2 separate regions of the Homo sapiens genome follow, and region 1 is linked to region 2. Evidence: fine-mapped expression QTL. A gene starts in region 2. The other region holds a variant in brackets. All regions are shown on one strand. Distances are between the middles of the regions.

Evidence for each region.
Region 1: its variant is fine-mapped to the expression of BEX3 in whole blood (TOPMed, PIP 0.95).

Annotation. Positions count from the first base shown.
Region 1 is chrX:103,458,572-103,461,324 of GRCh38, forward strand. It overlaps LL0XNC01-250H12.3 (a long non-coding RNA gene), which reads left to right. Exons shown (of 6, transcript NR_188440.1): 4 at 2,644-2,753. Among named protein-coding and RNA genes, the nearest start is that of LL0XNC01-250H12.3, 55 kb to the left of the region's middle. RefSeq lists an enhancer at 1,606-2,105. The variant G/A (reference allele first, on the strand shown) is at 1,038.
Region 2 is chrX:103,375,193-103,378,202 of GRCh38, forward strand. It overlaps BEX3 (brain expressed X-linked 3), which reads left to right and starts at 1,346. Exons shown (of 3, transcript NM_206917.3): 1 at 1,346-1,421; 2 at 1,836-1,914; 3 at 2,318-2,972. The coding sequence starts at 2,330. The coding sequence ends at 2,635.

The sequences.
Region 1 (2,753 bases), 83 kb after region 2:
GAATTTGATCCTGTCATTATGATGTTAGGTGGTTATTTTGCTCATTAGTTGATGCAGTTTCTTCCTAGCCTCAGTGGTCTTTACAATTTGGTATGTTTTTGCAGTGGCTGGTACCAGTTGTTCCTTTCCATGTTTAGTGCTTCCTTCAGGAGCTCTTTTAGGGCAGGCCTGGTGGTGACAAAATCTCTCAGCATTTGCTTGTCTGTAAAGTATTTTATTTCTCCTTCACTTATGAAGCTTAGTTTGGCTGGATATGAAATTCTGGCTTGAAAATTCTTTTCTTTGAGAATGTTGAATATTGGGCCCCACTCTCTTCTGGCTTGTAGAGTTTCTCCCGAGAGAGCAGCTGTTAGTCCGATGGGCTTTCCTTTGTGGGTAACCCGACCTTTCTCTCTGGTTGCCCTTAACATTTTTTCCTTCATTTCAACTTTGATGAATCTGACAATTATGTGTCTTGGAATTGCTCTTCTCGAGGAGTATCTTTGTGGTGTTCTCTGTATTTCCTGAATTTGAATGTTGGCCTGCCTTGCTAGATTGGGGAAGTTCTCCTGGATAATATCCTGCAGAGTGTTTTCCAACTTGGTTCCATTCTCCCCGTCACTTTCAGGTACATCAATTAGATGTAGATTTGGTATTTTCACATAGTCCCATATTTCTTGGAGGCTTTGTTCGTTTCTTTTTATTCTTTTTTCTCTAAACTTCTCTTCATGCTTCATTTCATTCATTTCGTCTTCCATCGCTGATACCCTTTCTTCCAGTTGATCGCATCCGTTACTGAGGCTTGTGCATTTGTCACGTAGTTCTCGTGCCTGGTTTTCAGCTCCATCAGGTCCTTTAAGGACTTCTCTGCATTGGTTATTCTAGTTAGCCATTCATCTAATCTTTTTTCAAGGTTTTTAACTTCTTTGCCATGGGTTCAAACTTCCTCCTTTAGCTTGGAGTAGTTTGATCTTCTGAAGACTTCCTCTCTCAACTCGTCAAAGTCATTCTCCATCCAGCTTTGTTCTGTTGCTGGTGAGGAGCTGTGTTCCTTTGGA[G/A]GAGGAGAGGCACTCTGATTTTTAGAGTTTCCGGTTTTTCTGCTCTGTATTTTCCCCATTTTTGTGGTTTTATCTACCTTTGGTCTTTGATGATGGTGATGTACAGATGGGTTTTTGGTGTGGATGTCCTTTCTGTTTGTTAGTTTTCCTTCTAACAGTCAGGACCCTCAGCTGCAGGTGTGTTGGAGTTTACTGGAGGTCCACTCCAGACCCTGTTTGCCTGGGTATCAGCAGCGGAGGCTGCAGAACAGTGGATATTGGTGAACAGCAAATGTTGCTGTCTGATCGTTCCTCTGGAAGTTTTGTCTCAGAGGAGTACCCGGCCGTGTGAGGTGTCAGTCTGCCCCTACTGGGGGCTGCCTCCCAGTTAGGCTACTCGGGAGTCAGGGACCCACTTGAGGAGGCAGTCTGTCCATTCTCAGATCTCAAGCTGCGTGCTGGGAGAACCACTACTCTCTTCAAAGCTGTCAGACAGGGACATTTAAGTCTGCAGAGGTTATTGCTGTCTTTTGTTTGTCTGCCCTGCCCCCAGAGGTGGAGCCTACAGAAGCAGGCAGGCCTGCTTGAGCTGTGGTGGGCTCCACCCAGTTCGAGCTTCCTGGCTGCTTTGTTTACCTACTCAAGCCTGAGCAATGGCGGGCGCCCCTCCCCCAGCCTCACTGCCACCTTGCAGTTTGATCTCAGACTGCTGTGCTAGCAATGAGGGAGGCTCCGTGGGCATAGGACCCTTCGAGCTAGGTGCGGGATATAATCTCCTGGTGTGCCGTTTGTTAAGCCCATTGGAAGAGCGCAGTATTAGGGTGGGAGTGACCCAATTTTCCAGGTGCCTTCTGTCACCCCTTTCTTTGACTAGGAAAGGGAATTCCCTGACCCCTTGAGCTTCCTGGGTGAGGCAATGCTTTGCTCTGCTTCAGCTCACGCACGGTGCACTGCACCCACTGTCTGGCACTCCCTAGTGAGATGAACCTGGTACCTCAGTTGGAAATGCAGAAATCACCCATCTGCTGCGTCGCTCACGCTGGGAGCTGTAGACTGGAACTGTTCCTATTCGGCCATCTTGGCTAAGACTTAAGTCTACATTTCTATTATCATTTCTTATTATGTGCAATCTTTTTTTTTTTTTTGAGATGGAGTCTTGCTTTGGTGCCCAGGCTGGAGTGCAATGATGCAATCTCGGCTCACTGCAACCTCTGCCTCCTGGGTTCAAGTGATTCTCCTGCCTCAGCCTTCCAAGTAGCTGGGACTATTATAGGCACATGCCACCATGCCTGGCTAATTTTTTTGTATTTTTAGTAGAGACAGGGTTTCACCATGTTAGCCAGGACGGTCTCAGTCTCCTGACCTTGTGATCTGCCCACCTTGGCCTCCCAAAGGGCTGGGATTACAGGCGTGAGCCACTGTGCCCAGCCTGTCATGTGCAATCTTGAGTATCACTGCTGTGTGGTGGTGGGGACAGTGAGATGAAGCTGAGGGAGAGGAAAAACCTCATTGCTTAGCTTCCAGTTAACTGAATGGGGTATAGGCAAAACATCATCACACGTACAACCTCCTTACCTGTCCTCTTTCTTTCCTCACTATTCCATGTGCTTTCTTATCTCCCTTCTAGTGTAACATCAGAGAAGGGGTGTACTCTGTGCCCTAGAACTAGGAGCTAACAGAGAAAAACCAAATGTGATGTGGAGTCTGCTAGACAGGCTACTGGAGCAAGAGTGAAGC
Region 2 (3,010 bases):
AGTCTCGCTCTGCCGCCTAGACTGAAGTGCAGTGGTGCGACGCGGCTCACTGCAACCTCTGCCTCCCGGGTTCAACGATTCTCCTGCCTCAGCCTCCCGAGTAGCTGGGACTACAGGCACGTGCCACCACGCCTGGCTAATTTTTTTGTATTTTTAGTAGAGACGGAGTTTCACCGTATTAGCCAGGATGGTCTCGATCTCCTGACCTCGTGATCCGCCCGCCTCGGCCTCCCAAAGTGCTGGGATTACAGGCGTGAGCCACCATGCCCGGCCAAAAATAAAATTTTAAACGAGCTAGTATGTATCAAAAGTAATGGCTTGATGTTGTGTGGAGCCCAGAAAAAATATTTTGTGTGGTACAGGTCAACATAAACAATGAGAGATTTCATTGTGCAGGATAAAGCATTTCCTTTTTTTTTTTTTTTTTTTTTTTTTTTTTTGACAGGGTCTTGCTCTGTCGCCCAGGCTGGAGTGCAGTGGTGCGATCCCGGCTCACTGCAACCTCCGCCTCCCAGGTTCAAGCGATTCTCCTGCCTCAGCCCCCCGAGTAGCTGGGATTACAGGCGCACGCCACCACGCCCAGCTAATTTTTGTATTTTTAGTAGAGATGGGGTCTCACCATGTTGGCCAGGCTGGTCTCACACTACTGGCCTCAAGTGATCCACCCGCCTCGGCCTCCCAAAGTGCTGGGATTACAGGTACGCCACCGCGCCCAACCAGCATTTCTTTCAAAATTAAAAACTTATAATTTATAATTTTCTGAAGCATGCAGATTTTTTAAGGAAATAAAAAGAAATATATACAGTCCACTCCACTTCCTTGCCCCGCTTTCTGACAAATGCCCTCCTGCCTCCCCACCTTAGCCCTCACTCTAAATTTTCTAGAAGGGTAGGAATTCAGGGGCTACGTGGGCATTGATGGCTGTGCACACGCAAGGGGTAGAAGTGGGAGTGCAGCGCAAAGCATGTTGCCAGGTAGAAAAGGAGAGAAAGCAGAAAAGGCCAAAGCCAAGGCCTGAAGTGAGAGGGGGCAGTGGTGGAGGATGATGCAGACCCTCCCTGGTAACCAGAGGAGGGCAAACTCCAACCGCAGAGCAGTGATGCCACTTGTGGGCCCTCAGATTGGAGAGGACCGAGAAGAGTGACAGGGCTGTGCGCTCTGGGGCACCTCATGCAGACGGGAGTAGGGAGGCTGTTTTTTGCGCGTGCATATGGCGGTGGCGGGTGGGGGGAAGGGGGAGATCCTGCTGCACTGGCCGCCCAAGTTGGGGGGCGAGCTCGGTGGTGACGCGCGGCCCTCACGTGACCCAGAGCTGCAGAGCGACGCAGCCTTCGGTGCAGTCGTCACTCGCGTCTGGCTACCAGCTCCCCGCTGCCCTGAGCTCGGCGGGCTGGCATTCGGCCCGGGGAAAAGCGGAGCAGGTAAGGGCTCCGGGGCCCGTGAGCCCCGGCCATGCCAGCAGCGGCTGACCGACCTCGGCGACAGGCGCAGAACAGCGCAGGGGGTCCCCGCCAGCTTTCTCCACACCCCAACATGCTTGGGAACACAGAGGCCCCCAGGGATGGGGAAGCAGGGGCGGCTGGGTTTCCAGGGGCGGCAGAGCCACCAAGAGCGATGGAAACCCACCCCCGAGTCCCTGCAGGAAAACAGCGAACACCGCGGGGGGCTGGGCGTTCGAGGGTGGGGTGGGGGTGGGGGGCGGGAGACGCGGGGCGCTGGCAGCGAGGGGAGCCCGGGCTCGGAGCACGGAAAGGGCCGGGCGGCGGCGGGTCTTCGCTAGCGTTCCGCTGCAGCAGCCCCCACCCCCCACAACCCCCACCCCGGCTCGACTGCAGGTCTGCGAGGCTAAGTGTCTCCGCGGCGCACCTCGCGGCGAGAATCCGGAGGAGAAGGAGACTGCAAGGATAGGCCCAGGTCGGTGCGAGGGACGGTGGTGGGGCGGGGGTCGGAACGTAAGGAAAGCCCAGTCTGAGACCCCAACCCCCTCCACCCCATCCCCCACTCCTATACCGGTCCTCCATTTTGGTGCCTGCAAAGCTCTGGGAAAGAATCCCGGGAAACGAAAAATGGTGGGTTTGGGGGAAGGGAGGTAAGGGGAGAAAGCTGGAGGGAGGGGCTTTAATTGGAGGCCCCGTAGAGGACGCGCGGAACTTCTAAGGTGGGAAAAAACGAAATTAAAAAATCCTTTGATATCAGGGCTCTGAATCCTGCTGGTCAGAGCACCAAGCATTCAGTCTCTCTCCTTGCCTTTGTCTTACTTGTGTTCAAAGAAAAACAACCAGAAAAAAAAAATCTCATCATGGCAAATATTCACCAGGAAAACGAAGAGATGGAGCAGCCTATGCAGAATGGAGAGGAAGACCGCCCTTTGGGAGGAGGTGAAGGCCACCAGCCTGCAGGAAATCGACGGGGACAGGCTCGCCGACTTGCCCCTAATTTTCGATGGGCCATACCCAATAGGCAGATCAATGATGGGATGGGTGGAGATGGAGATGATATGGAAATATTCATGGAGGAGATGAGAGAAATCAGAAGAAAACTTAGGGAGCTGCAGTTGAGGAATTGTCTGCGTATCCTTATGGGGGAGCTCTCTAATCACCATGACCATCATGATGAATTTTGCCTTATGCCTTGACTCCTGCCATTTATCATGAGATTAATACTGTGATTCCCGCTGTTTTCTTTTTCCTTGCATTTTCCTAATATGCCTTTACTGATCCGTTTGCTGTGAACCCTATGTTATTTCCATGTGTCAAGTGGGTCTTGTGTTGCCAGCTTCTATTTGAAGATTGCCTTTGCACTCAGTGTAAGTTTCTGTCAGCAGTAGTTTCACCCATTTGCATGGAAAAATTTAAAGCTAATAAAGCAATTTAAAAAGCAATCTATACATTTATTGTCTCATTAAAAATGTATACTTACATATAACAGATGAACTAAAAAAAAATCTGAGATTAAATACACTAGAGTGTTAATTGGTGAACATTTCTGTGTGTTAACTAATCCCAGCACT